Linked DNA regions of Homo sapiens. The protein of the gene in region 1 interacts with the protein of each later gene in a pairwise test. Each region holds a gene or a part of one and is shown on either strand. Other genes may lie near its edges. The genes, in order: LTK and MTMR14.

Evidence for each region.
Region 2: the proteins of LTK (region 1) and MTMR14 interact in a two-hybrid assay, tested with the Homo sapiens proteins (one study listed by BioGRID and IntAct).

What each region holds. Positions count from the first base shown.
Region 1 is NC_000015.10:41,500,120-41,515,091, forward strand, and holds LTK (leukocyte tyrosine kinase receptor isoform 1 precursor), read right to left. Parts: upstream 13,709-14,972; 5' UTR 13,591-13,708; coding exon 13,548-13,590; intron 13,002-13,547; coding exon 12,858-13,001; intron 12,760-12,857; coding exon 12,588-12,759; intron 12,147-12,587; coding exon 11,996-12,146; intron 11,845-11,995; coding exon 11,698-11,844; intron 11,460-11,697; coding exon 11,303-11,459; intron 11,290-11,302; exon of another isoform or gene 11,228-11,289; coding exon 11,045-11,227; intron 9,011-11,044; coding exon 8,912-9,010; intron 8,118-8,911; coding exon of another isoform or gene 8,103-8,117; coding exon 7,950-8,102; intron 7,539-7,949; coding exon 7,443-7,538; coding exon of another isoform or gene 7,395-7,442; intron 7,345-7,394; exon of another isoform or gene 7,326-7,344; intron 7,172-7,325; coding exon 6,976-7,171; intron 5,887-6,975; coding exon 5,796-5,886; intron 5,659-5,795; coding exon 5,594-5,658; intron 5,412-5,593; coding exon 5,282-5,411; intron 5,187-5,281; coding exon 5,089-5,186; intron 4,946-5,088; coding exon 4,853-4,945; intron 4,756-4,852; coding exon 4,654-4,755; and 8 more. Other genes in the region: ITPKA (inositol-trisphosphate 3-kinase A), read left to right, coding at 1,344-1,440, 1,516-1,732, 1,878-2,082, 2,283-2,384, 2,669-2,740, 2,844-3,047. UniProt on the Homo sapiens protein: Receptor with a tyrosine-protein kinase activity. Following activation by ALKAL1 or ALKAL2 ligands at the cell surface, transduces an extracellular signal into an intracellular response.
Region 2 is NC_000003.12:9,640,590-9,655,686, reverse strand, and holds the start of MTMR14 (phosphatidylinositol-3,5-bisphosphate 3-phosphatase MTMR14), read right to left. Parts: upstream 6,183-15,097; 5' UTR 6,104-6,182; coding exon 5,945-6,103; intron 5,360-5,944; coding exon of another isoform or gene 5,158-5,359; intron 2,067-5,157; coding exon 1,918-2,066; intron 1-1,917. UniProt on the Homo sapiens protein: Lipid phosphatase that specifically dephosphorylates the D-3 position of phosphatidylinositol 3-phosphate and phosphatidylinositol 3,5-bisphosphate, generating phosphatidylinositol and phosphatidylinositol 5-phosphate.

The DNA.
Region 1 (14,972 bases):
CCGGCTAATTTTTGTATTTTTAGTAGAGACGGGGTTTCACCATGTTGGCTAGGATGGTCTTGATCTCTTGACCTTGTGATCCGCCCACCTCAGTCTCCCAAAGTGCTGGGATTACAGGCATGAGCCACCTCGCCCAGCCCGGCATCTTATTTTCATGGCTTAAGATTTCTAGGTCCAGATAAAAACCAAGGGTGCCCTGGGCCTTGCCAGCTAATGAGTGCATAGAATCCAGGGATAGCAAGAGAGGCTTGGAGAGCCTTTTCTTTCTCCAGCCCTGTTCTTTCTCCAGGCCCTGCCAGGCTGGCCTTCCTGCCCTGGGCCTGTGTACAGGTTTGTTTCTGTGTATGTCTGTCTCCCTAAATGAGAGGAACCAAGGTCCTGAGTGAAGGAATCAGTGATTGAGATTTGTTCAGCTTCTGCCTCATACCATGGAATGGGATGGGGGAGCTGGGCGCCTATCATGCTTAAGCCTTATGTACTACTCACAGCAACCCAGTAAGGATAGTTATTTCCTCATTTTATAGATCTTTTTCTTACAGATGCACAGAGGCTTGTTTCTTGGGCCCTGGAATCTTTTGAGGCATTGGTAGTAATAAAAATTTGGGGGGCCGGGCCTGGTGGCTCACACCTGTAATCCCAGCAGTTTGGGAGGCTGAGGTGGGTGGAACACCTGAGATCAGGAGTTGGAGACCAGCCTGACCAATATGGTGAAACCCTGTCTCTACTAAAAATACAAAAAATTAGCCGGGCATAGTGGTGTGCACCTGTAGTCTCAGCTACTCGGGAGGCTGAAACAAGAGAACCGCCTGAACCCGGGAGGTAGAGGTTGCAGTGAGGCCAGATCGCGCCACTGCACTCCAGCCTGGGTGACAGAGCAAGACTCCATCTGAAAAAAAAAAAAAAAAAAAAAAAAAATGGCCCTACTCTAGACCAACTTAGAACATCCCTGCGGTAGGCCTGATAATCTGCAATTTTTAACAAGGGTGACCATCAGGTAATTCCGATGTTCACAACAGTTCAAAAACCTCGACAGAGCATTTTCGTAACCTGCCCACGCGTTCTTCAGTGGCAGAGCTGGAGCGCAAACCGGGGGCTTCAGATGCTAAGTCCAGGCTCTTGACAGCTCACTGGAGACGCTGGAATCACCTTCACTGCGCCTGTATCAGCACCCGCCACACAGGCGCACAAATAAACCTTCCCAGAGTGAATGAATGAATTAATGACTCATCCAGCCCCAGCTGCTTCCGGTGGGTCGGGGGCGTGGCGAGACCCTGTTTCAGTGGAGGGAGGGCTTATGCATTGCCGAGACGCCGATTATCAGACCTTGACCCTGTCGCTTTCAGAAAAACCACTGGCAGAAGATCCGGACCATGGTCAATCTGCCGGTCATAAGCCCTTTCAAGAAGCGCTACGCCTGGGTGCAGCTGGCAGGGCACACTGGTGAGCAGTGGGGCGGGTGGGCGGGTGCCCGCGACGGGAAGGGGCTGGGCGGCGCTGACGGATGCCGGTCCTCAGGGAGTTTTAAGGCGGCGGGCACCAGCGGGCTGATCCTGAAGCGCTGCTCGGAGCCGGAGCGCTACTGCCTGGCGCGGCTGATGGCTGACGCGCTGCGCGGCTGCGTGCCTGCCTTCCACGGCGTGGTGGAGCGCGACGGCGAAAGCTACCTGCAGCTGCAGGACCTGCTCGATGGCTTCGACGGACCTTGTGTGCTCGACTGCAAAATGGGCGTCAGGTATGCGTGCCCTGCCAGGTCGGTTGGGGGGATCAAGTAGGGGTCCGGGGCCGGGACAGCTGCTTGAGGGGGACCCGGGGCGAGTGCTCGAAGGGGTCTCCGTGTGCGCCCCCTCATGCCCTGGCCGCTGCCTGCGCCCCCACAGGACTTACCTAGAGGAGGAGCTGACCAAGGCCCGTGAGCGGCCCAAGCTGCGGAAGGACATGTACAAGAAAATGCTGGCGGTGGATCCTGAAGCTCCCACGGAGGAGGAGCACGCGCAGCGCGCCGTCACCAAGCCGCGCTACATGCAGTGGCGGGAAGGCATCAGCTCCAGCACCACCCTCGGCTTCCGCATCGAGGGCATCAAGGTGAGGCAGGCGCGCTTCGCTGGCACCGCCGCAGCCCCACTGCGCGCTGTCTTTCCCGATCCCCCGCTCCCGCCCCGCCTGCCCCTCCGCCCTCTCCCACCGCCTCGCCGTCCCCTGCAACTGGGAGGTACCGCTGCTCTACGCTGTCCTCTTCCCCACTGGCGGGCCCGGGGCCCCTGACACTCCTGTCCCACATCCAGAAAGCGGACGGCTCCTGCAGCACCGACTTCAAGACTACGCGAAGCCGAGAGCAGGTGCTTCGCGTCTTTGAAGAGTTTGTGCAAGGAGATGAGGAAGTGCTGGTGAGAGCGGGATCCCAAACCCTGAGGTGTTGGGGAGCCTGAAGCCGAGGACTGCCCCTGTCATCTGGCCCAGTGCCCTCGGCTGTGTCCCCACCATGGCCCTCACCGCGCTGGCTCGCAACTGCTCTACGCTCCTTCCCTTCTGGGCCACGCTGGGCGGGGCCCTGGGTCCTCCTCCTGGCGGCATTTGCCAAGCACAGCGTGGGTCCCGGCTCCTCATCGTTAGCAGGGGCTCATTTGGCGTTTAGTTAATTTGCCCTCCTCTCCCACCCCACCCTCTGCAGAGGCGGTATCTGAACCGCCTGCAGCAGATCCGGGACACCCTGGAGGTATCCGAGTTCTTCAGGAGGCACGAGGTAAGCGGCGGCTGCCCGGGTGCCCGGGCCGCGAGGGCTAGGGCGGGAACCCGGCAAGGGCGTCTCTGGGCAGGGCCGCGGCCTGACGGTGCGGGGCTCGCAGGTGATCGGCAGCTCGCTCCTCTTTGTGCACGATCACTGCCATCGCGCCGGCGTGTGGCTCATCGACTTCGGCAAGACCACGCCCCTCCCCGATGGCCAGATCCTGGACCACCGGCGGCCCTGGGAGGAGGGCAACCGCGAGGACGGCTATTTGCTGGGGCTGGACAATCTCATTGGCATCCTGGCCAGCCTGGCTGAGAGATGAGGCTGGACTCCTGTCCCCGCGGGCCGCTCACCTGACATGTGGACCTGCAGCTTTGTCCCCACTGTGCATGCCGGCTTGAGACTGGAGCCCCGCGGTGCAGGGCAGTTCACCGGGTCCTGCAGGACCAGGTGCCAGCCACTAAGGGGGGGCACCGCCGATGCCAGGGGTTTTGCCCACCCGGGCCCCAGCGTTCCCAGAGCCAAATGACACTAACTTATAGAAGGGGAGGGGGCAAAGGGCTTCTTCCTCAGGCCAGCTCTTCTGAGGAGGCTCTGCCCTCTCCAGAGGTGCCAGACCGCGGATTTTATTTAGCAAGCCCAGACCTTCCGGTCTAACGTCTCACACCACGACGGACTCCCCTTCCTAATAAAACTCAAAGACAAGATGCAGCTTCCTGTGCCTCAGGCCTCAGCCCCTCCCTCCTCCGGCCCCCTCTTCCTCAGTTCCGGTCCCTGGCATCCACAGATCGCTGGAGGATGAGAAGAGCTTTTTATTAGAAGCATCTGCAGGGTGGGGGGTCTGCCCAGATGAAGGATGCTCATAATGGGAGAGCAATCCAGTGCTCCCCATGGACACCTGGGGTGTGTGTAAGGCGGCCTCTGGCCCCAAGATCAAAAGCTGGAAGTGGCTGGGCCCTTCCCTGGGAGGCCTGGGCTGGTTTCCAGCATGGCAAGTGCAGCGCTGCCAGGCCAGCCCCGAGACAGGCCCAGACACACAGCACAGACTGCAGGGAACAGAGGCCGCTGGCATAACAGGCCACCCAGGAGCCTGAGGAGTATAGGGAGGGACCCTCAGTGCCTCAGTCCTTACCCTCAGGGCCCCTTGGGGCTCAGGAGCGATAAGTGGGATTCCAAAGGTTCTGAGGTTGGAGGCCCCTGGATTTGAGGGGCTTGAGGCCAGAGGACAGCCAGGGGCCAAGAGGGCTACCTCCCCAGCTTTTCAACTTCTCTGGACTCAGTTCCTGGGGCTGTGGGGGTCTTAGGCACTCCAAAGATCTGTTCCCCAGCCCAGAAGTCCCTTCCTCCTCTGGGGTGGGCCCCAGCTCCATTGGCAGGAGTGAATTCAGCACATCCGGGTCCTGTAATGGAAGAGTCAGGGAGCAGGGGGGCATAGAGTTTTCTGGCCCTCCCTCCTGACCCACAAGACCAGGATGTTAGATTAGGTCGGGGGCACACCTGAGTGCAGTACTGCAGACGCTCCAAGATGCTGGCAAAGCTAGGGCGGAGCTCAGGCTCGTGCTGCCAACACTGGGTCATGATGCGGTACCTGGGGAGAGGCAGGAGTTCATGCCCACCCATGGTTGTGAAGGACCTCCCTTCCCGGGCAGCACTCAACTCACACAGGCCCTGGGCAGCCCCTAGGAGGGTCCATCCGGCCTCCTCCAACGACGAAGTCCAGCACCTCCTGGTTGGTGCGCCCAGGATAGGGCATGTAGCCCAGTGAGAAGATCTCCCAGAGCAGCACCCCAAAAGACCTGCATCACAAGTGGGGGAACCAAGTGAGGCCCGTCAGGTGTAGCCTCCCCTCACATGAGGTGGCTGGAAAGGACAGGATTAGCCTCAGGGGAGGGGAACAGTGGGGAAGGGGAGGGGAAGGGTGTTATCACCAGGAATCTGTCTTGGATGTGAAGATGCCCTCCAGGAAGGCCTCTGGGGGCATCCACTTGACTGGGAGCAAGGCCCGGTCCCCCCTGCGGTAATAACTGGCCCTACAGGAGGGAGGAGGTGAATGATGAGTTGTTCACCACCAAGGTGCGGGGAAAACCCCCTTGGAGCAAGAGCCTTCCCACCTCCCAAGTCCCGCACCGGTAGATATCTCGTGCCATCCCAAAGTCCCCAATCTTGGCCACTCGGCTGGGTCCAGCGCAGCTCAGCAGGCAGTTCCGGGCGGCAATATCCCTACAGAGTAGGCAAAAAAAATCACTGCCAGAATCTAGAAGTTCTTGCTCTTCCTGATCTATTTCCTTAAAAGCTGTGTGGAAGGGCTGTTCCTTGGGGAGGGAGTTGGGATGGGGGTCCCCTGAGCCAGGACTGCTCCTAACCTGTGGATGAAGTGATTTTCCTCCAGGTAGTGGCAGCCCTGGGCTATGTCCTGGGCCAGTTGCAGCAGGTCCCGCATGACCAGAGGTGATGGCTGGCCCTGGGTCAGGCAGAGGGGGCATCAGTCCATGTAGGTCTCAGACACATGGACAGGGTCTTTAGAGGGGCCTGGGGGGGCTAAGACAAGGGTCTCACCAGGTGTGGCCGACTGTGCCTCAGGAAACTCTTCATGTCCCCTCCAGACATCAGTTCCAGCAGAATGAGGCGAGGGGTGGCCCTGAGGCTGAGCCCCACACACCGCACAATGTTCTGATGGCGAAACTTGCTGAGTGGGGTGGGGGACATATCCCGTTACCAGGAGGGAGACGGAAACCATGTTTTAGGCTCCACAAAGCTGGAGAGGCCCTCTGTGTCCCCTGACTTGCTACCTCAGCCTCAGGGTGAAGAGAAACTGTTCCCGGGCATTCCCCTCCCGCCTTCCAGCCCTGCCCCTGGTCCCAGGTGCACCTGATGATGAGGGCCTCCATGAGGAAATCCAGCTCATCCTGAGGCGAGCAGAGTTCTGGCAGGGTCTGGGGAGGAAAAGGGCACAGTTTCTGAGCTGCCCTGCACGCTTCAGGAGAGGGGGTTAACCCTAGCTCTAGTCATTGTCCTTCCCTTCAGGGTGTTCCGCTCTCCTACCCCCAGCCAGAAGTCCCACTCCTCTCACCTTGATAGCTACCTGCAGGGGACTGGAGTCCCCAGGAAGGCCAATTACCAGTCCCTCATACACCTCCCCAAAGGCACCATGGCCCAGGGCTCTGCAGGAAGACACGTTGGAAGGGAGTGGGCAGGCGGCCTGGAGAAGAGTCCTAGAGAGTCTAGTACCCCCTTTACCTCCCCTGCCCCTGCCATATGCCCAGCTGACCCTATATAGACTCTCTCCATACCATGGCATGTCCCCAGGTAGAAGCCCTGCAAGGGTGGTGCTCACTGGCATAGAGCCAGGGCAAAAAAGAGGGCAGATGCGGGCCAGAGTCAAGGTGGGAGTGCATGATGAGGACTTCCCTGGTCCCTGCAGACGCCCTGGGCGGGAGGCAATCCCTGGGCTCCAAGAGTCATGATTTTTTTTCTTTTTTAAACGAAGTCTCACTCTGTCATGCAGGCTGGAGTGCAATAGCGCGATCTCGGCTCACTGCAACCTCTGCCTCTCGGGTTCAAGTGATTCTCCTGCCTCAGTCTCCCGAGTAGCTGGGACTACAGGCAAGCGCCACAACGCCCAGCTATTTTTTGTGTTTTTAGTAGACACAGGGTTTCACCATGTTGGCCAGGCTGGTCTCGAACCCCTGACCTCAGGTGATCCACCTGCCTTGGCCTCCCAAAGTGCTGAGATTACAGGCGCCAGATCATATTTTTTTTTTATTGAGACAGAGTCTCACTCTGTCGCCCTGGCTGGAGTGCAATGGCGCAATCTCGGCTCACCACAACCTCCGCCTCCCAGGTTCAAGTGATTCTTCTGCCTCAGCCTCCCACGTAGCTGGGATTACAGGCATGCGCCACCATGCCCAGCTAATTTTGTATTTTTAGTAGAGATGGGGTTTCTCCATGTTGGTCAGGCTGGTCTCGAACTCCCGACCTCAGGTGACCTGCCTGCCTCGACCTCCCAAAGTTCTGGGATTACAGGTGTGAGCCACCACGCCCAGCTGAGAGATCATATTCTAAGAACTGGGACGGAGAGGTGACATTGAGCAAGTTACTTCCCCTTCTGGAGCTTCTCAGGGCCTCCCTCTCCCTTACACAAGGGATGTGGGCCAGATTTTTTCTGGGACTTATAATTCACTACAGCAGGGAGAGAATCAGAGGTGGGGATTCAGAGTGCATAGGTTCTCAGAAGGAGGCAGAAGACTTACCTGAGCAGAGTAACATTGGCTGGGGAAACCTCGGTGACACCTGGTGGCAGAGGCCAGGACTGGGCCGGGCCAAGCCCCACCTGGCAATAATAGGGATTGGGGGCTGTCCTGATGGCAGAGGTTCGAAGCTTGCTCAGCTCAAGCTCAGGGCTCGGCAGCCTCATCTCCTGCAGGCCCTGCCACTTCTTCTGCTTCACTGGGGGTGGGAAGAATAACGGCACACCCTCCACCTGCCCATCAACTCTCCCTCCCCCACCTGCCCAGGACACCCCTCCAGATGCTCATTAAGGTAAACGTTTTCCCCAGGCCTCCCCAGCTCCTTCCTATCTTAGAATCCCAGAGGAGTCTACCACGGCTCTGCTGCGGTGAGTGGTCTTGAAGTCAGCCCCGGGACCCCGCAGAAACCCATCCCAGCTCACTGGAGAGGAGCAGCCTTGAATCAACTGTGCCTGCTAGACGCTTCGTACCCAGAATCAGGACCCCACACACCATAAGGAGGCTCAGTGTTGAGGTTGCCACCACAGCCACCATCAGAACCAGAGGGCCTGGGGGCTTGTGCAGGTCTAGGGAGAAAGAGAGACACCTCCAGTGGGAAGGTCTTCTCTGTTCCTTTACCCTCAAGTTTTACCCACGCTTCAAGACTCAGCTCAAGTGTTAATTTTTCCATGATGCCTTCCCCCATTATCCTGGGCAAAAGCAACCTCTCCCTCTTGAACACCCCTAAAGCACTTTATACCTCCCACAACAATCGTCACTTGAGATATACATTTACATAGCTATATCTAAACATCCTCCCACACTGGACGACAGGCCTCTGAAAGGCACTGTGCACCGATGAATCTCCAATCCCCTGCCCAGCACCCACCACAGGGCCTGGCACACAGCAAATCTCTATACCATCTTTCCCAGTGGCCTACTGCTCCTCCCAGTCTGTGACCCCAGGAGTCCAGACCTTGGGCAAAGGTAGGACATACCCATGCAGGTGACGTTATCCACAGCTAGCTCCATGCCTTCTGGGCACAGGCATTCAGCCAGCTGGAGCTCTGCCTGCCATTGGCAGTCTCTCAAAGGGCAGTGACTGCAGTTGAGGTGCCTTCGGATCTCTACCTCTCCGTGGTTCTCGGTGACTGTGAGTAAAAGAACTGATATGATATGGTGTGGTAGGGCTGGGATATAGTAAATACATGCCTTTGGCTGGGTACAGTGGCACACGCCTATAATCATTGCACTTTGGGAGGCCGTGGTGAGCGGATCACCGGAGGTCAGAAGTTCAAGACCAGCCTGGCCAACCCCGCCTCTACTAAAAATACAAAATTAGCCGGGTGTGGTGGCGCACGCCTGCAATCCCAGCTACTCCAGCACTGAGGCTGCAGAATCACTTGAACCCGGGAGGCGGAGGTTGCAGTGACCCAAGATCGCACCACTGCACTCCAGCCTGGGTGACAGAGCGAGACTCTGTCTCAAAAATAAAAATAAATAAATAAATAAATAAATAAATAAATAAATAAATACATGCCTTTTCCAGCCACATGGTTAATTCTAGCCCAGGACTTTAGAGCAAAGAGCAGCACCAAGCTTACAAGGGTGGTGAGAGAAGCTGGGGGACTTCTGTCAAGCCTGCACACTCCCAGGTATTTGAAGCGAATTCATAGCAAGGGGGTACTTGAAAAGCACGCAGCATGCCCTGCATTGCCATCCAGCACGACTGGCAGCCCACTTTCCTTTTTTTTAAGACAGAGTTTTGCTCTTGTCGCCCAGGCTGGAGTGCAATGGCATGATGACAGCCCACTTTTCAAATGACCCTATGCTATGCAAGAATCCTGTGCTATGCAAGGTTATTCACAGTGCAGGTGGCTCTTCAGTGCAGTGCAGGAGTGGGCTCAGGGACTGCGGAAGAAGTCCAGGCCAGGCTCAGAGGTGGGGTTGGGGCCAATACCTGCCAGAGGCTGCAGGAAGAGCTCGCTGCTGGGGTGTATGAAGGATACTCCATCTTCCCCATCAGCCCAGAGGTTGTCAGTCTCTGAAGCGTCGCCCCCTGGAAGTGGAGAGTGATGGAGAGTTTGACTACAAAAATGGGGGATGGGGGAGAAGCTGGAATCTCCCGGTGGAAATCCCAGTGTGGCCCTCTCTTCTCCAGCATCATGATGCAAATGCTGTCTGTTCACAAGTGGGAGTGAAGGAGGTGAGGAGGGGGTAATCAGCTGGAGCCTGAAGGCCTCGCTGAGGCTGGCTGGGATGCCTCCTGCCTGCCTGAGCCCCTCCTGTCCCATGTCCTCACAGTCCCTTTCTGTGAGAATGTAGATCATGTGTGTATGTATGAGCAGTACAGCCCAGACAGGCACAAAGGCATTTACACTAGTTATTTGATCAAAACACAGATGACTGGGACTCTCCCTTACAGTTTCTGATTCAGTATGTTAGAGAAGGGCTGAGAATTCGCATTTCTTTTTAAAAATTAATTTTTAATTAAAAATAAAAATTCAGGGCCAGGTGTGGTGGCTCACGCCTGTAATCCCAGCACTTTGGGAGGCCGACATGGGCGGATTACGAGGTCAGGAGTCCGAGACTAGCCTGACCAACATGGTGAAACCCCATCTCTACTAAAAATACAAAAATTAGCCGGGCATGGTGGCGCATGCCTATAATCCCAGCTACTCAGGAGGCTGAGGCAGGAGAATTGCTTGAACCCGGGAGGCGGAGGTTGCAGTGAGCTGAGATTTGTACTACTGCACTCCAGCCTGGGCAACAGAGCCAGACTCCATCTAAAAAAAAAATTCATATATTTATTGTATACAGCATGATGTTTTGAAATATGTACACACTGTGCAATGGCTAATGCAAACCAATATATACACCACCTCACATGCTTATTTTCTGTGGTAAGAACACCTATAATCTACGCTCTTACCAATTTTCTTTTCTTTTTTTTTGAGACAGAGTCTTGCTCTGTCACCCAGGCTGGAGTGCAGTGGCACGATCTTGGCTCACTGCAACCTCCGCCTCCCGGGTTCAAGCGATTTTCCTGTCTCAGCTTCCCGAGTAGCTGGGACTACAGGCATATGCCACCACGCCCGGCTAATTTTTGTATTTTTAGTACAGATGGGGGTTTCACCATATTGGCCAGGCTGGCCTCAAACTCCTGACCTCAAGATCCACCCGCCTCCGCCGCCCAAAGTGTTGAGATTACAGGCGTGAGCCACCGCGCCCCGCCTCTCTTAGCGATTTTCAAGAATACATCGTCATTAACTACAGTCACCATGTAGTACAGTAGATTCTGGAAGGTATTCCTCCTATTTAACTGCCATTTTGCATTGTTTTGACCAGCATCTCCCCAACCTTCCCCCAACTCCCAGGATAATTTCCATTGTTTTTTTTTTAATCTTTGAGACAGAATTTCCCTCTTGTCGCCCAGGCTGAAGTGCAATGGAGTGATCTCGGCTCACTGCAACCTCCGCCTCCCAGGTTCAAGCAATTCTCCTGCCTCAGCCTCCAGAGTAGCTGGGATTACAGGCTCCCGCCACCACGCCCGGCTAATTTTTGTATTTTTAGTACAGACAGGGTTTCACAGGTTGGCCAGACTGGTCTCGAACTGGTGACCTCAGGTGATCCACCTGCCTTGGCCTCCCAGAGTGCTAGAATTACAGGCGTGAGCCACCAGGCCCAGCTGATAATGTGCATTTCGAACAACTTAGGTTGTGGGGATATTACCTGTTCCTGGACCACACTTTGAGAACCACTGACTTAACCCAATCCTGCCTTTCTGCCCCTTTGCTCAGCTTGCTCACTCGGCCAGCTCTAAGTTCTGAAGACTGCTGCAGAACAAGGCAGGGACCTGCTGTGATGGGAAAGATCCTGGATTAAACGGAAATCTAGGGAGTCCTGTCTGCATGCTGATTTGCAGTGTATTTGACCTCCTTTTCTAAGAGCTCCTGCTTTTTGTTTGGAGCTGCTGAGCAGGGCTTAATGCCTCTCCCACACCTATCCTCCCGAGGGCTCCGGCCTGTACTTAGGTTCTAACATCACCTCACCCTCGGGCCTGCTCAGCTGCCCTCTCCAACGGTGCACCTACCCCTGTAGCCGCCGCCGCCTCCGCCCGCAGTGCAGGCCCCGCCGCCGCCCCCGAAGCCGCCGGCCGCGGCCCAGCCAAGGGTCGCCCAAGCCTCGGAGCAGCCCTGGCCGCCCTCCGCCCCCTCCTGCAGTGAGCGGCCGGCCTGCGGAGAGGGAGCCCGCGACGTCCAGCCGCCCCCACCACCTGCAGAGCGACAGCAGGAAGGTTGGCAGCCACACGGGGAGCACGCCCGCCTCTCCCCGCGGCCCGCGCCCTCACCTGCCGCCCCGCCTCTCCCGCCGCTCCCGGGCGCCTCCGAGCGGTTCTCCAGTTTCTCGGGGGAGGCCTGAGTCCGGCCTCGGTCCCGCGGCCTCAGGTAGGCCCGACCGCCGCCTCCGGCCGCCACCAGCAACGGTTCCAGCTCGCCAGCGCGCACCTGTGGGGCCAGCGGCGTGTTCCAGGAAGCGCCCTCCAGCTGTCCAGGGGCACTGCCACTGGGAGAGGGCTCCCGCCCAGGGGGCCTGGATAAGGGCAGGGGCCCCCAGCCCAGCCCAGGCCAGCCCAGCCCAGCGCAGGGATAGGGGGACCCCAAGGGACGGACGGAGAGCCGGTGCGTGAGCGCCCCTGGGGAGAGGATTGGGACCCCAACGCTGAGCGCCGAAGGGAGCACGTACCCGGAAAACGTAGGTGGCGCCCCCGCCACCCCCGCCACCTCCCGCCCAGCGCCGCGACCCCGGGACCCCTTCGCTCCCATCCATCGCCGCGTGCTCTTCAACGGCTCGAGACTCCCCGAGGCAGACGAGCTGGCTCTCCGGGCTACCCTGCGGGCAGCGGGGGAGGGAATCGGCGGGGCCCGGGAGCCTCCCCTCGCTGTGCTGGTGACCCGGCACCGAGGAAAGCACGCTCCCCCGGCCCCCAGGCAGCCCTCGCCCCCGGCGCCGGCGCCGCCCCATCCCCACTGGCTGCGCTCACTCCGGGACAGGCGTCCTCTCCCTGCTGCCCCACCAGGATGTACAGCGACTCCCCGAGACCGAGGGAGAAGATTGCTGAGACGAAGACGCCATGCGCCCGCGACAGGTGGTTCTTGGCGCCTTTGCCGCCCGCGGCTCCGTAGGCTGAGATCCTGCGGGGAACGGACGGTGAGTCCCCGGCCTTCGGTGCTCAGGCCGGCCGCTCCGGGCAGAAGTTGGCGACAGAGGAGGCTCCAGAATTATTTTTTATCTGAGGGACTTGGAGGCTGCAATCGACTCTGACGGGATGGGAAGGGTAGGTTTGCACACCGAAAAATCAGATATTACACTTATTTCAGGAGGGTTCGTGGAAATGTGGGGAGGCTCAAGCACCCCTTGGCGCCGCCCTGGTTGGGGGCCTTCCGCTCGGTGTAAGAGGTTCCGGGTAAGGGCTAACTCGGTGGCGACTACTGCCACCTTGAAGGGCACTCAAGGTGGACCTCCCCGCGGAATAGTCCAAGACGCAAGTCGGTGCGCACGTGGACTTCGTTACCCTGAGGGTGAAACCTCCAACTAGCAGGTCACTGTCCACCCTACCTCCGCCGTGCACTTACAGATACTGGCCAGGGCCCGGCACGCGCCACAGCTGCACGCCTCTCAGCTGCCCGGCGGCCCCCACGGTCACCACCACGCTGGTCCCCGCGTACGCCCCGTCACATTGTGTCTGTGTGGGCCCATGCCGGCCGCTGGCCCCGCAGGTAGAAAACAGCCAAGACCCCTCGGTGCCTGAGAGCAAGGAGCGAGGCAAGGGTCGTCGAGCCCCTGGCTGGGCCAGAGGGGTCTGGTATGGTGAGCGAAAGAGGAAGGAGGCGTCTAAAGCTCACCCGGAGAATTCAGCGGGGAGGCTGGCTCCAAGATACTAGGCGGGGCGCTGACTTTCGGGTCCCGGGGGCTGGGACTTGCCAGCGGCAGGGGCGAGGACCGCAGAAAAGTCTCCTGGGACCCCGGGCTAGAGCAGAGAATGGCGCCTGAAAGGTGTTGGGAGAAGGCGCAGGACGTTAAGGCGGGTGGAAATAGGATATGAAAGAAAGAGAGAACCCCGCAACAGCTGCCCTTGCGGTCGCGGCCACACCCGTCACCCGGCCCAGCCGCGCTCTCAGCCTGGAAGCCACTACCCGACTCCGGTCGCAGAAGCCCCGCGGGTGCGCGCTGATAGGTCTGCCAGTTTCTCTCCTCGAGCGCCTTTCCCAGTGAATAACTTAGGGGCCGCAATGAATTTGGTCCTGCAGCCTCCCCAATGCTTTCCTCAACTTAGATTGGTGGCCCCGCCCCAAGGCGGTGCTGAGACCCCAAAGAATGTTCCTCCTTCCCAAGCTGCGTGATCCAGACTCTGGGATTCGCACGCACTTGGCGCTTCTCGGCCCGCACTCCAGAAGCACGGACCGGAGAAATTTGGCTGTGAGAGTTCGAGGCCTCTGGAGGAACCACTGACACCTGGCCTGTTGACCGGCCACCCCCAAGCCTAGGAAAGTGCCTCAGGCTGGACGGTCCCCTGACCGCCAGATAGCACTTACCCGCGGCTCCGAACCACACCAGCAGCTGTCCCCAGCAGCCCATCCCTGTTGGGTCCACCCGGCAACAAAAGCCCTTGCGGTCGCGGCCACACCCCTGTCAACCTAAAGTTGACAGCTCATTTTGCCACGGCAGCCCTGGCCACCACTTACAGGGGTGTGCTGCCGCTGGCGAGACACTCCCCGGACCTAAAGCTGGTCTGGCCACGCCCACCTCAGACCCCAGGACGCCAGAGGAGGAAAGGGAGGGGCGTGTGGGCAGCGAGGTCCCTACGCTTCCGGGAGGAGCCTTAAGGAGTCCCCACCCAGGGGTTCTAGTTTCCAGCCGTCAGATGTGCCGCAGCCTGCTGGGAGCTCCGGTAGGTTTGAGGCCGGAGAGGAGGTGCCCCACGCTTAAAGTGGGAGCCACACCTCGGACACCAGGTGGGGGCTTCCAGGTTCCTGAGGACAGGAGCAGTGGAGTGTGCACTTCATTTGTGGCAGTGGTGGTGGTGGTGAGTGTGTGGCATGCGTCACCACACGTGGGAAGTACTCTAAACTGCTCCAAGTAAGGCCTCATTACCTGCCATTACTTGTGCCTTTTAGTGGTGCCTTTGTGACTGCAAGGCTGAACCTCATTGCTACTCCCAGAAACCTGGATCTCTGTGTTTGCCTCATATAATTCCGTTGCCTGTGTTACCCCTGTGCACAGCCTCTCACTGTGATGGGGTGAAAGACTGGACCAGACGTTAGAAGATCCGAGTGTTTTTAGTAGCACTGAAGGTCAATAGATGATAGGTAGGTAGACCGATCGATCGATTGATCTTGAGCACTAGTACTGGCACCTCTGGTCAATGGGTGATGTAGCACAGGCCACAACTGCCCTGAGAGTTTCCCCACCACCTGCAAAATCATATGAAGGGAAATTGCTCTGTAAGGTACCCTACAAATGTGGGAGCCACTCCCTTCAGGTAGTTTTGTGTCTTGAGTCTTCGATCATTTGCTTAAATGATCATTTGCCGGGTGCGGTGGTTCATGCCTGTAATCCTAGCACTTTGGGAGGCTGAGGCGGGCAGATCACCTGAGGTCAGGAGTTCGAGACTAGCTAGACCATCATGGCAAAATCCCGTCTCTACTAAAAATACAAAATCAGACACACGTGGTAGCGCACGCCTGTAATCCCAGCTACTCTGGAGGCTGAGGCAGGAGAATGGCTTGAACCTGGGAGGCAGAGGTTGCAGAGACGAGATCGCACCATTGCACTCCAGCCTGGGCAACAAGAGCAAAGCCCCATCTCAAAAAAAAAAAAAAAAAAAAAATCCTAACTTGAAAGTCTGAGACCTATGTTTAATACAAAATACTTCAAAAGAGAAGTTATAGTAGTTAGCTACTTGGTAAAGTCTGAGTATAATTCAAGGTGTAAACAGAACAGTGATTTTGTAAAAAGTC
Region 2 (15,097 bases), on another chromosome or scaffold:
GTTCGAGACCAGCCTGACCAACGTGGTGAAACCCTGTCTCTACTAAAAATACAAAAAAAGTAGCTGGGCGTGGTGGCGGGCGCCTGTAATCCCAGCTACTCAGGAGGCTGAGGCAGGAGAATTGCTTGAACCCGGGAGGCAGAGGTTGCAGTGAGCCAAGATCGTGCCACTGCACTCCAGCCTGGGTGACAGAGCACTCTGTCTCAAAAAAAAAAAAAAAAAAAAGACATCAAGGGAGCTCTCACAGAATGTAGACTGGAAATTCTGATTCCAGAAGGCCCAGGAGAGGTTCTAGAATCTGTCATCTTTTTTTTGAGATAGAGTCTTGCTCTTGCTCTGTTGCCCAGGCTGGAGTGCAGTGGTGCAATCTCGGCTCACTGCAACCTCCACCTCCTGGGTTCAAGCGATTCTCCTGCCTCAGCCACCCGAGTAGCTGGGATTACAGGAGCCCACCACCACGCCCAGCTAGTTTTTGTAATTTTAGTAGGGATGGGGTTTCACCATGTTGGCCAGGCTGGTCTCAAACTCCTGACCTCAGGTGATCCACCCAAAGGAGGCTGGGATTACAGGCATGAGCCACTAGGCCAGGCCGAGAATCCATAATCTTAGTAAGTGCTTAGGGGTTCCTAGCACAATAAAACCACTGATACCCACACACAACCCACAGGTTCACACTCCCTGGCCTGATGATCAAGATCCTATATGAGTTGATCCCTAAGGACATTTTCAGGGAAACTCCTGCTCATCCTTCCAATTCCAGTTCTTCCCAGGCACATAAACACAAGGCAGAATTAACCATTTCCCCAGTTGGCCTACGGCAGCACTTCTCAAACCTGGTAGTGCATTCGAATCACCTGGACACCCTGTTCTGCTGTGATTCTGGCTCAGTGGCTCTGGAGCATGAGCTTCTGCGTTTCTAACAAGTTATTGAATGCACTGCTAGCCCTGCTTTGAGTAGCAAGGGGCTACTGCACTATGCAGCATGACTGCTGCGGTACTCCTCACAACATTTCACCCACGGGGCCAGGATTTCACAGATAGTGCTGACAACGGCTCCTGAAATTCCCTTAAAATCAGCAGGAAGTAGGGAGATTAGGAGAGCAAACTTTGAGATCAACATATACCACTTCCTAGAGCCTCATGCTGTGATTACTTATCAGTATCAAATAACTATACCATTTACTGACTACCTACAGGCCACAACCTGCACCAAGCATTCTGTGTCTGCTCTGGTATAAACTGTTAACCCACATAAGGTACTCAGGTCTTGGTAGGCCCACCATAAATGGTAGCTTTTATTTCTAATTCTTACAACGTACATGTCAGGCTTTTATCAGCCCCATTTATCATCTGGACTGCACTACCACTTTCTAAAATTTTAGTTAGTCCTTAAAAGGACTAATTAACATGAGGTAGAGAATTACCAATAAGAAAACTAAGGACAAAGCAGTTAAGTAACTTGCCCAGCATCAGTTACACAGCCAGCAACAGGGGAATCCAGGATGTGAACTCTAGACAGTCTGACTCTAGCAGTCTGACTCTAGACCTTAGGCTCTCAAGTGCTACATACGGTAAACGCTGGTAAGCCTGTCTTTACACAGTGTACCTCCCACTCACACTCTCTAAAAAAGGGACACTGATATTCAGAGAAGTGAAGTGTGAAGTCAGCTATCTTAGGACAATGAGCTCTAGGGTGGAAGTGAAACAGCAATCAAGGGCTGTTACTCCCAACCCCTCATTCTATGCCATGCCACCTTGCCAGTCTGACTTGTCCAACCTTGAAGTAAATAAAAATGCCAATAAGGATTAACACCTGGGGAAAGTGATTCTGCCCTGCCCAGCTACAGACTTCCTGGCCACAGGGATTAGCTGCCACGGACTCCCCAGACATGTACACTACGGTCACATGATGCTCACGTGTCTTTCTCCTTCTCAGAACTCTCATACTCCAGGAACACGATGTGCCGGGGATAGTGGCCACAGATATCCCCATTCGTGTTTGGAATCACGCTGAAACAGTAGTCTCGGCCAAACAGCTCCAGACATCTCTTCTCAATGCGCTCAACCTGCACAGAGAAGGAGACCAGAACACAAAGAGAATTCTGGGGTTCTGAGGGTGAGAATTAGGAGGTCCATGGCCTAAGAGGTCACTGGGAAAGACATGTACCTGGGTGATAATTATTCTGTGCTGGGAAGATGTGATGCTAGGCCACAGGTCCTACGTGTAGTCCATTAACCCATATATTGTATACTTCAGGAAGGATTCTTAAACCCCTAACAATGAATCTGAAATTGTGGGTATTGAGCATTTGGGGGAGACGATTACAGCTTTCATTAGATTCAAAGAGGTCTACAACCCATAAAACATAAGAACTCTTGGTCCAGGTTACTGAAACTGCCACTAATCCACTACCTTCATTGGTCAGCTTCCCCATTCTCTTATTTATTTTTTGAGACGGAGTCTCGCTCTGTCGCCCAGGCTGCAGTGCAGTGGGGCAATCTCAGCTCACTGCAGCCTCCGCGTCCGGGGTTCAAGCGATTCTCCTGTCTCACCCCGAGTAGCTGGGATTACAGGTGCGTAGAACCACGCCTGACTAATTTTTCTATTTTTAGTAGAGACAGGGGTTTCACCATGTTGGCCAGGCTAGTTTCAAACTCCTGACCTCAGGTGACCCGCCCACCTCGGCCTCCCCAAGTGCTGGGATTACAGGCGTGAGCCACGGCACCCGGCCTTTATTTTTTTAAAAGACACAGTCTCACTCTGTCATCCAAGCTGGAGTGCAGTGGCACGATCTCAGCTCACTGCAACCTCAGCCTCCTGGGTTCAAGTGAGCATATTTGGCTAATTTTCATATTTTTAGTAGAGATGGGGTTTCACCATGCTGGCCAGGCTGGTCTTGAACTCCTGATCTCAAGTGATCCGCCCGCCTCAGCCTCCCAGGTGTGAGCCACCATGCCTGGCCTCTTCCCCATTCCTTTTTTTTTTTTTTGAGAAAGAGTCTTGCTCTGTCACCCAGGCTAGAGTGCAATGGTGTGATCTCTGCTCACTGCAACCTCTGCCTCCTGGGTGAGCCACCACGCCCAGCCAACAAAAAATTTTTAATAGAGATGGGGTTCATGTTTCCAGGCTGCTCTCGAACTCCTGGGCTGAAGCAGTCTACCTGCCTTGGCCTCCCAAAGTGCTAGGATTACACGCGTGAGCCAGTGTACTGGCCCTCTTCCCCATTCTTTAGCCATAGACTAGTACCTACAAGCTCTATTCCATGCAACCAGTAAAAGCTGCAAAGTCTCTTTATACACAACTTGCTGGTGAAATAGAAGAAACAGCTCCCCCTAAAATTACTTATTTTGATCACAGTTCAGAGAAAAACACAACAGAAAAAAGGCATAAGAACTGTAACATCAAGAAGTTTGCAAGAGGGCCAGGCATGGTGGCTCACGCCTATAATCCCAGCACTTTGGGAGGCACCGAGGAGGGCAGATCACTTCTGATCAGGAGCTTGAGACCAGCCTGGCCAACAGGTGAAACCCTTTCTCTACTAAAAATACAAAAATTAGGCTGGGTGCAGTGGCTCATGCCTGTAATCCCAGCAGTTTGGGAGGCCAAGGCGGGCAGATCACGAGTTCAAGAGATTGAGATAATCCTGGCCAACATGGTGAAACCCCATCTCTATTAAAAATATAAAAATTAGCTGGGCATGGTGGCGGGCGCCTGTACTCCCACCTACTGGGGAGGCTGAAGCAGGAGAATCGCTTGAACCCAGGAGGCGGAGGTTGCAGTGAGCCGAGATCACGCCATTGCATTCCAGCCTGGGCGACAGAGTGAGACGCCATCTCAAAAAAAAAAAAAAAAATTAGCCAGGCATGATGGTGCATGCCTGTAGTCCCAGCTACTAGGGAGGCTGAAGCAGGAGGATCGCTTGAATCCAGGAGGTGGAAGTTGCAGCGAGCCAAGATCGCACCACTGCACTCCAGCCTGGGTGACAGAGGGAGACTCCTTCTGAAAAAAAAAGTTTGCAAGAAGTTAGTCCAAAGGTAGTGAGTTATCTCAATCGATTGTTCAGTTACAGATCTAACTCCCTGTTCTGCCTGAATTGTTATAAATACATATAAATATATATACATCTAAGTTTGCAGGAGATCAGAAGGCCTGGAGAGATAATTAAGGCCAGCCGCAGCCAATATGAGGTGTAACTTATGCTAACCCTAATCTTCAGGGTCATGTAAGTTGGAAGAGGGGTCCAGAAAAACCAATGACCTACAGCCACTCAAAAGACCCTTACTGGCCAGGTGTGGCGGCTCACGCCTGTAATCCCAGCATTTTGGGGGGCTGAGGTGGGAGGATTGCTTGAGCTTAGGAGTTTGAGACCAGCCAGGGCAATATAGCGAGACCATGTCTCTAGGAAAATAAAGAAAAATTAGCCAGGCATGGTGGTGTGTACCTGTGGTCCCAGGTGCTTGGCAGGCTTAAGTGGGAGGATCGCTCAAACCCAGGATTTCGAGGCTGCAGTAAGTCATGGTTGCACCACTGCAATCCAGCCTGGGCAGCAGAGCGAGACCCTGTCTCAACACAAAAAACAAAAACAAACAAACAAAAAAGCCAGGCGCGGTGGCTCACGCCTGTATCCCAGCACTTTGGGAGGCTGAGGTAGGCGGATCACCTGAGCTCAGGAGTTCAAGACCAGCCTGGCCAACCTGGGGAAACTCCATCTCTACTAAAAACTACAATAATTAGCTGGGCGTGGTGGTGGGGTCCTGTAATCCCAGCTACTTGGGAAGTTGAGGCAGGGAGAATTGCTTGAACTGGGGAGGCGGAGGATGCAGTAAGCTGAGATTGCGCCACTGCACTCCAGCCTAGGCGACAAAGCGAGACTCCTTCTCAAAAGAAAAAAAAAAAAAAAGCAAATTCCAGGATCCCACCCCCAGAAATTCTGACTTGGTAGGACTGGGTGGGACTAAGGAATCTCTGTTTTCACAAAGTATCCCATAAGCACAAATTTTAAAAGTACCCCAGATGATCATTAAACAGGTGGTCCCCAGACTATACTTGGAAAAATTACTTGGCCATTTGGAGAGTGAGGAAGTCCAATCCTTACTGAAGTCTTCCCTGGGTTACTTCAGAGACTACAAGATGCCAACTACAGAATAGCAACTCACGGTAATCTCTGAGGTCAAATCAGAGTTCTGTGGTGCAGGATGGAACAGAATTCCACTGGAAAACTTGGTGCTAAAGCTGCCAAAACCACGTGGGGGAATGAGATGGCAGGGTCGGCAAGATTCCCACCGCACTGCCAGCCAGTGCTTAGGGTGGGGATGGCCTGAGCTGACAGGAAGCCCTCCAGGTCTGGCGATAAGACGACTGGGTGGAAATCCCAAAGGGAGCAAAAAGAGGAACGGAGACCTGCTTTAGATAAAGGAACTGAAAGGGAGTGTGGGTTGTCTTCCTGCTCTATAGGGGAAGGAAAGGGATGGGCCTAAGTCATGCTGAGACCTTATAAGGGGGCAGCACACTGGGTTCACCTCCTGGCTCCATTCTGACCTCTGACCCCGAGGAATCGTCTCCCTATTTTTCTTAGCTTTTTCTTGGGGCTTTTTCCCTGACACAACTCATCCTACGGCACCTGAAGCAGGGAATAGACCTTCCTTAGGTCCTCCTCTCTGATCTTTGAACCTGGCCCCTCAGCTTGATCTCTCACCTCCAGACCCCTTCTCAAACAAGAAGGACCTCTTTGCTGGGCTCATTCTGACCCCAGTTCCTCCTTTTATGGTTGTCAAGACCGACTCTTATACTCCGGATACAGACCCTGGAGAACTCCTCTCTCTCTCTCCTCTTCCTCAGCGGCGAGGTACCACTCCTACCTTTTTCTGACCCCTGGCCTCAGCCTTTCCTCTGTAACTTCCCAAGTTAGGAGCCTTCCCCAGCTCATCGCACCTCCAATCTCACCTTAGAGCCGCCGGTCCCGCTGCCATCCTTGGCCCGGTACTGAGTCCGGGAGAACTCCTCCAGCAGCTCCCCAAGCCCCAGCTCCTGAGGCGGCTGGTTGCCTGAAGAGGCCGAGGACCCCGCCGAGGCAGCGGCGGCGGCGGCCCGAGCGCCGGCCATGGCCCAGCCCCGCGTCCCCTCAGTGTGCCTCAAGCGGGCCCATGGCACCTGCCTGCACCCAACTCCGACACTAGAACCTCCGGAACCGCCTCAGCCACCGCCTTCTACTTCCACTTCCACTTCCGGCCCCGCCCCGTCCCGCCGGATGTTTACTCCGACTCTGGCCAATCGGAGCTCTGGACCCGCGCCCCGCCTACGATTACTGGCCCGCCCCCGGCGCAGAGCGATCCTTCTATCCACCAGGGAGGCCACTGGCTGATACCGCGTGATCCGCCCCAAGGGGTTTCCCCCGGGGAAGCCGGGCTCAACCATTGGGCTGCCGGGGGAGGGGGGTAGCAGGAAGGAACCATTGAAAAGAACCAGAGGAAAAGTGGAATCAACAATTACAGGGAAGCCGAGCGTGGTGGCTCACACCTGTCATCCCAGCACTTTGGGGGGCCGAGGCGGGCGGATCACTTGAGGCCAAGAGTTCGAGACCAGGCTGCCAAAATGGTGAAACCGCATCTCTACTAAAAATAAAAAAATTAGCCGGGCATGGTGACACCCACCTGTAATCCCAACTACTTGGGAGGCTGAGGCAGGAGAATCGCTTGAACCCATGAGGCTGAGGTTGCAATGAGCCGAAATCGAACCACTACACTCCAGCCTGGGTGACAGAGCAATACTCTGTCTTAAGAAAAAAAAAAAATTACAGGGCGAGGAGGAGAGAACGCTTGGAGGCAACAAATTAGTACTAGAAACCATAATGGCAGTGGTTACCAATATTAAAACATTTCAGCCGGCCGCGGTGTCTCACGCCTGTAATCCCAGCACTTTGGTAGGCCGAGGCAGGCGGATTATGAAGTGAGGCATTCGAGACCAGCCTGATCAACGCAGTGAAACCCCGTCTCTACTAAAAATACAAAAATTAGCCGCGCGTGGTGGCAGGTGCCTGTAATCCCAGCTACTCGGGAGGCTGAGGCAGGAGAATTGCTTGAACCCGGGAGGCGGAGAGTGAGCCGAGATCGCGCCACTGCACTCCAGCCTGGGTGACAGAATGAGACTCCGTCTCTAAAACAAAAACAAAAACACAACATTTCATAAAACCCTTTCTCCCCCTGCTGCTCACAACATCCCTGTGAGTACAGTGCATTATATCATCAGCCCTATTTTATTGAGGTAGAAACTGGGAGTCAGGGAGGTGAAGCGACTGCCTTGAAATTCTGTGATGAGAAGCCTCTCATTATTATTATTATTAGAATATTTCAGACATTCGCAAAAGTGGAGACAATAGTATAATGAACCCTCATGTACCCATTAACTGGTTTTGAACAATAATCAACATCTGCTTATCTATCCTGTTTAAGCAGTCCCTTCCCATCCAGGGAATTATTTTAAAGCAAATCCCAGACATCACATTATTTCAGCTGTGAATACTTAAGCATTTATCACAACAGATTTGTACTTCAAAAAAAAAATACATAAAAAATATAAGGCTATTAACATGCCTAAGAAAATTAACAATATTCCTTAATGTGGTCTAATACCCAGTCTGAATGAAAGTAATTCGTTTTTGTTAAACTTTTAATAGAAGTATGATATGTACACCAGCGCCCCGGAACCCTCCTCCTGACCACTTTCAGTCACTACCCACTCACCAACAACCACCCACCACCCTGCCCCCCCAACTCCTCCCACCCCCAGTTAATCACTATCCTGGCTTCTAGAGTTTTAATACGGTAGATTGGTTTTTAATTTAATTTAATTTTTTTTTTTTTTTTTTTTTTAGAAACGGTTTCACTCTTGTTGCCTAAGCTGGAGTACAGTGGCATGATCGTGGCTCACTGCAGCCTCCAACTACTGGCCTCAAGCAATCCTCCTGCCTCAGCCTCCCAAGTAGCTGTGACTACAGGCATGTGCCACCACACCCAGCTACTTTTTAAATTTTTTTGTAGATACCGAGTCTCACCATGTTGTCCAGGCGAGTCTCAAACTCCTGGGCTCAAGCAATCCTCCCACGTCTGCCACCCAAAGTGCTGGGATTACAGGTTTGAGCCACTACTCCTGGCCTACTAGATATTTTCTGACAAATCTATATACGCATTTGTCTTAAACACCAAGGAATGAAATGACTGGATTATATGGTGTTAAAGAAAAATTACAGGCCGGGCATGGTGGCTCATGCCTGTAATCCCAGCACTTTGGAAGGCCAAGGTAAACTGATTACCTGAGCCCAGGAGTTCGAGACGAGCCTGGGCAACACGGTGAGACCCCCATCTCTACAAGAAAATCAACCAGGTGTGGTGGCGCACATTGAGAGGCTACTTGGGAGGCTGAGGTGGGAGAGGATCCCTTGAGCCAGGGAGGTTGAGGCTGCAATGAGCTGTGATCATGAAACTGTACTCCAGTCTGGGTGACAGAGCGAGACTCTTGAGACTCTGCCTTAAAAAAAAAAAAAAAAAAGAAAAAAATTATAGGCCATTATTTTGGACAAAGCACCCGCACTAGATCCTAACAAACAAGACTAAGAACCAAAATGGAGTAATTCCTACTAAACTTACATCTTACCAAGCTGAAACTAAATTATCTGACCTTCAGAGAAATCCAGAGAGATAATAGATATTCCCCAAACAGGCCACTTTCAATAAGCATGATAATGAACTTTCCTCTGCCCTTAATCCTTACAACAAAAGTAACCTGATGTTAATCAATCCATTATTTTTCTTCTTCTTCTTCTTCTTTTTTTTTGAGACGAGTTCCCGCTGTTCTGTCACCCAGGCTGGAGTGCAGTGGTGCAGTGGTGCCATCTCGGCTCACTGTAACCTCTACCTCCCGGGTTCGAGCAATTCTCCTGTCTCAGTTTCCAGAGTAGCTGGGATTACAGGTGTGCGCCAACACACCCGGCTAATTTTTTTGTATTTTTAGCAGAGACGGGGTTTCGCCATGTTGACCAGACTGGTCTCAAACTCCTGACCTCAGATGATCCACCCACCTCAGCCTCCCAAAGTGGTAGGATTACAGGCATGAGCCACGGCGTCTGGCCCAATCCGTTATTTTTCTATTGTTCTGTTTCCTTGTTCCTGCCCTACAGGGAAAGTTACTTTGAAATGACCAATCCGGCCGGGCGTGGTGGCTCACGCTTGTAATCCCAGCACTTTGGAAGGCCGAGGCGGGCGGATCACGAGGTCAGGAGATCAAGACCATCCTGGCTAACATGGTGAAACACCATCTCTACTAAAAAAAAAAAAATACAAAAAAACAGCTGGGTGTGGTGGCGGGCGCCTGTAGTCCCAGCTACTCGGAAGGCGGAGGCAGGAGAATGGCGTGAACCCCGGAGGTGGAGCTTGCAGTGAGCTAGGATGGCGCCACTGCACTCCAGCGTGGGTGACAAAGCAAGACTCCGTCTCAAAAAAAAAAAAAAAAAAGAAATGACCAATCCACTTTGTGTTGTTTGTGCTTTCTTCAGCCCTTATCTGTTTATAAACGCAATGGCTCACACCCGTAATCCCAGCACTTAGGGAGGCGGATGCGGGCGGATCACCTGAGGTCGGGAGTTCAAGACCAGCCTGACCGATGTGGAGAAACCCCATCTCTACTAAAAATACAAAATTAGGCCGGGCGCAGTGGCTCACGCCTGTAATCCCAGCACTTTGGGAGGCCAAGATGGTTGGATCACCTGAGGTCAGGAGTTCTAGACCAGCCTGCCCAACATGGTGAAACCCCGTCTCTACTAAAAATATAAATATTAGCTGGGCGTGGTGGCAGGCACCTGTAATCCCAGCTACCTGTGGGACCGAGGCAGGAAAATCCCTTGAACCTGGGAGGCAGAGGTTGCAGTGAGCTGAGATCACGCCATTGCACTCCAGCCTGGGGGACAAGAGCGAGACTTTGTCTCAAAAAAAAATTAGCCGGGCATGGTGGCGAATGCCTGTAATCCCAGCTACTCGGGAGGCTGAGGCAGGAGAATCACTTGAACCCAGGAGGCAGAGGTTGCAGTGAGCAGAGATCATGCCACTGCACTCCGGTCTGGGTGACAGAAGGAGACTCCAACTCAAAAAAAATAATAAAATAAAATAAAAATAAAGCCAATTAAGATGTTTAAGTTGCAATTCTGTCTTTTGACAATGGTCAAAGTGTAACTTTCTAAGAGTTTTCCCGTGACATTTACATTGCCTCCTGCAAGTCAGCAGAGTTCCAGTTGCTCTGCATCCTTGTCAATACTTTTTTTTATTTTAGTTTTTCTGGTGAGAATGTACTGGTATTTCTTTTGTTTTTTTCCTCATACTAGTTTATACTTTGGAAGAATGTAGTGGTATCTTATTGTGCTTTCGTTGTTGTTGTTGTTGTTGTTGTTGTTGTTGTTGAGACAGGGGCTTGCTCTCTCCCCCAGGCTGGAGTGCAGTGGTTTGATCACGGCTCACTGCAGCCTTCACCCCTGGGCCCAAGCAATTCTCCCACCTGAGCTTCCTGAGTAGCTGGAACCACAGACATGTGCCACCGCACCCAACTAATTTTTTAATTATCTGTAGAGACAAGGTCTTGCTATGTTGCCCAGTCTGATCTTGAACTCCTGGGCTCAAGTGAACCTCCCACCTCAGCCTCCCAAAGTGCTAGGGTTACAAGTATGAGCCACTGCTCTACTTGTGCTTTTAGACTATGTGCCCAGCTCTATTGTGCTTTTAAAAAATCAATTTTATTGAGGTATGAGTACATAGAATAAAATTAATCCTCTTTAATTGTACATTTTGATGGGCATTGCCAAATTATAAAATCACCAGTGTAATTAAGATGTTGAACATATATATCACCTCCAGAAAGTTCCCTTGAGTCCCATCTCAGTCCTTTCCACCCCTACCCCCAGCCCCAGGCAACAACTGATTTATTTTCTGTCACTAGCCTTCCTATAAATGGAATTATACCCTGTGTATTCTGTGTCTAGCTTCTTTAAGCGTAGCTAATTTTGGTTTTAATTTGCATTTCCCTGATTAATGAAGTTGATCACCTTTTCGCATATTTATTGCTCATTTGAATATGCTCTTGGGTAGTGCTTGTTAACATCTTTTGCCCATTTTTCTAGTGGGTTGTCTGTATTTTTATTACAAATTTATAGAAGAGGTTTGAATATTCTGGACATGAGTTCTTTTGAAATCGCCGTTACAAAATTGTAACAGACAGTGAAAGAGATTTGACCTAACCAACTCCATCTTGCTTCTTTTTTTTTTTTTTTAATTTTTTTATTATTACACTCTAAGATCTAGGGTACATGTGCACAACATGCAGGTTTGTTACATAGGTATACAAGTGCCATGTTGTTTTGCTGCACCCATCAACTCGTCATTTACATTAGGTATTTCTCCTAATGCTATCCCTTTCCCAGCCACCCACCCCACAACAGGCCCCAGTGTGTGATGTTCCCCTTCCTGTGTCCATGTGTTCTCATTGTTCAGCTCCCACTTATGAGTGAGAACATGCAGTGTTGGTTTTCTGTCCTTGTGATATTTTGCTGAAAATGATGGTTTCCAGCTTCATCCATGTCCCTGCAAAGAACATTAACTCATCCTTTTTAATGGCTGCATAGAATTTAATGGTGTATATGTGCCACATTTTCTTTATCCAGTCTATTATTGATGGACATTTGGGTTGGTTCCAAGTCTTTGCTATTGTGAATAGTGCCTTAATAAACATACATGTGCATGTGTCTTCATAGTAGCATGATTTATAATCCTTTGGGTATATACCCAGTAATGTGATTGCTGGGTCAAATGGTATTTCTAGTTCTAGATCCTTGAGGGATCGCCACACTGTCTTCTACAGTGGTTGAACTAATTTACACTCCCACCAACAGTGTAAAAGCATTCCTATTTCTCCACATTCTCTCCAGCATCCGTTGTTTCCTGACTTTTTAATGACCGCCATTCTAACTGACGTGAGATGGTATCTCATGGTGGTTTCAATTTGCATTTCTCTGATGGCCAGTGATGATGAGCATTTTTTCATGTCTGTTGGCTGCATAAATGTTTTCTTTTGAGAAGTGTCTGTTCATCTCCTTTGCCCACTTTTTGATGGGGTTGTTTGTTTTTTTCTTGTAAATTTGTTTAAGTTCTTTGTAGATTCTGGATATTAGCCCTTTGTCAGATGGATAGATTGCACAACTTTTCTCCCATTCTCTAGGTTGCCTGTTCACTCTGATGATAGTTTATTTTGCTGTGGAGAAGCTCTTTAGTTTAATTAGATCCCATTTGTCTATGTTGGCTTTTGCTGCCATTGCTTTTGGTGTTTTAGTCATGAAGTCCTTGCCCCCCATCTTGCTTTTAACCTCTAAGCTGGCCTTATTCACTCCTGGGCATAGGCTGAACTAACTTTGGGAGGAACTTAGTTTATAGTTTATAGTTTAAAACAAAGATGATAACAGCCCTTTCCTGAAACAAACCCCCTTCTTGCCTGGGGACTAGACTGCCATTGTAGGACTTAATAAATTAGCCCTAAGATTAGAAGTTATGGTTTAGGAGTGATGCAGCTGGAGGCTACAAGACTCTGACCTTCCCCAAATTGCTCCTGGGGATATCACTATTGTAAACCTAAGACCAGTGTTTGAGATACTTTGCAGACCCTGCACTTGATGGATCAGCTGGTACCACCCAGATCGATAAACTAGCTTATCTGACCTTGTGGCCCCCACCCAGGAAATTACTCAGCACAAGAAGACTCCCTATGAGTTCATCTCTGACCTGACCAATCAGCGCTCCTGGCTCACTGGTTTTCCCCACCTACCAAGTTGTCCTTAAACACTCTGATCCCAGAATGCTTAGGGAGCTGATTTGAGTAATAATAAAACTATGTTCTCCCGCACAGCAGCCTCTGTGTGAATTATTCTTTCCGCAGTTCCCTTTTTTTTTTCTTGAGGCGGAGTTTCACTCTTTTTTTTTTTTTTTTTTTTTGAGACGGAGTCTCGCTCTGCCGCCCAGGCTGGAGTGCAGTGGCGCGATCCCCGCTCACTGCAAGCTCCGCCTCCCGGGTTCACGCCATTCTCCTGCCTCAGCCTCCCGAGTAGTTGGGACTACAGGTGCCTGCCACCACACCTGGCTAATTTTTTTTTGTATTTTTAGTAGAGACGGGGTTTCACCATGTTAGCCAGGATGGTCTCGATCTCCTGACCTCGTGATCCGCCCACCTCGGCCTCCCAAAGTGCTGGGATCACAGGTGTGAGCCAGTGCGCCCAGCCTACGGAGTTTCACTGTTGTTGCCCAGGCTGGTGTGCAATGGCGCGATCTTGGCTCACCACAACCTCCGCCTCCTGGGTTCAAGCTATTCTCCCGCCTCAGCCTCCCGAGTAGCTGGGATTACAGGCATTTGCCACCACGCCCGGCTAATTTTGTATTTTTAGTAGAGACAGGGTTTCTCCATGTTGGTTAGGCTGGTCTCGAACTTCCGACCTCAGGTGATTTGCCTGCCTCAGCCTCCCAAAGTGCTGGGATTACAGGCATGAACCACTGCACCCGGATCCCCTATCTTGATAAATCAGTTCCATCTAGGCAGCAGGCAAGGTGAACCCATTGGACAGTTACAAATTTGGGGACTTGTCTGAGATTGCCCTTGTGACTACCTGCCTGTGGTTCAGTAGCCCCCTCTCCAGCGATGGATCCAGAGGCCACCCAAAGGGGCCACCTAGTTCTCTTGGACTAGGGGTTGACTCTGGTACTCTCTCCACTTGTGGGGCACTGACAACCCAATATGCATGGAATTTTTTTTTTTTTTTTGAGACAGAGTCTTGTACTGTGGCCCAGGCTAGAGTGCAGTGGCGTGATCTTGGCTTATTGCAAGCTCCGCCTTGACTCCAGGTTCACGCCATTCTCCTGCCTCAGCCTCCTGAGTACCCGGGACTACAGGCGCCCGCCACCACGCCCAGCTAATTTTTTTTGTATTTTTTAGTAGAGACGGGGTTTCACCGTGTTAGCCAGGATGGCCTCGATCTCCTGACCTCGTGATCCGCCCATCTCGGCCTCCCAAAGTGCTGGGATTACAGGCGTGAGCCACCATGCCCGGCCTACATGGATTTAATTGCAATGGAGAAACAGTCCTGGGGAGACGTTCCATAACTGTAGCCCTATCACAAGGTGTCTGTCTGTAGCCTCATCATGGTGTGTCTGTAGTCCCATTGCAGGGTGTCTTGTTTGTCTAATAGCTCCACCACAGACAGTCTGTCTCAGTTTGGCTCCCTCAGGGGTCTCAGTTTGTCTGTTGCCCCATTGTGGGGTGTCTGTCTTGGTTTGGCTCCTAGTGGGGGTTTCAGTTGGCTCTTCCTAACTAGTAGGAAGAGACTTGGTTCGGGAGACTTCTCAATCAGGAAGACTTTGGGGAGATTTCTCAGATGGAGAATAGGAGAATAGTTTGGAAGGGATACTCTTGGAGTTCTTGGTTAGGGATCTGATTTGGAAGGCCTTCTGCCTGTCTCGTCTTTATGTGTGTGTTTGTATGTGTGGAGGGCATCTCAGAAGGAGTGGCTGACGGAAGTCCAGCAGGCCTAACTCAGAGAACCCTCCTATTAGTCTGTTAACATTCATTGAGCCCTGGAGAAAGCTCAACAGGCCTGTCTCAGTGTGACTATCCACTCTTCACCTTGCCCAGAGATCACCCATTGTGAATTACCTTTCGGAGCTCATCCCTCCCCACCAGGAGTGGATCAAAAACAATAGGGACCAACAGGAGAAAGTTTGAATTTTGCCAGGATGATATTGGGTGCTGAAAGAGGTGACTAGTGTCTGTTGTATTATGTATATTTTGCTGGGATGGAAAATATTAATTTGGTTTCCCGTGCAGCCTGTTGGACATCTTGCAAAATGGCGAATCTTTTGCCTATGGTTCAATAAAGCAGAAAAGGATGATTTTCTTTTGTAACAGGGCTTGGCCCCCCCACCAGCTATGGCATAGTGAAGAGGGTCATCAAAAGCCGCTTCGTTCTTCTGGAAGCTGCAGCAGAGAAAGGGGACCCGGAAAGTTGGTATGCCAGCAAAAACG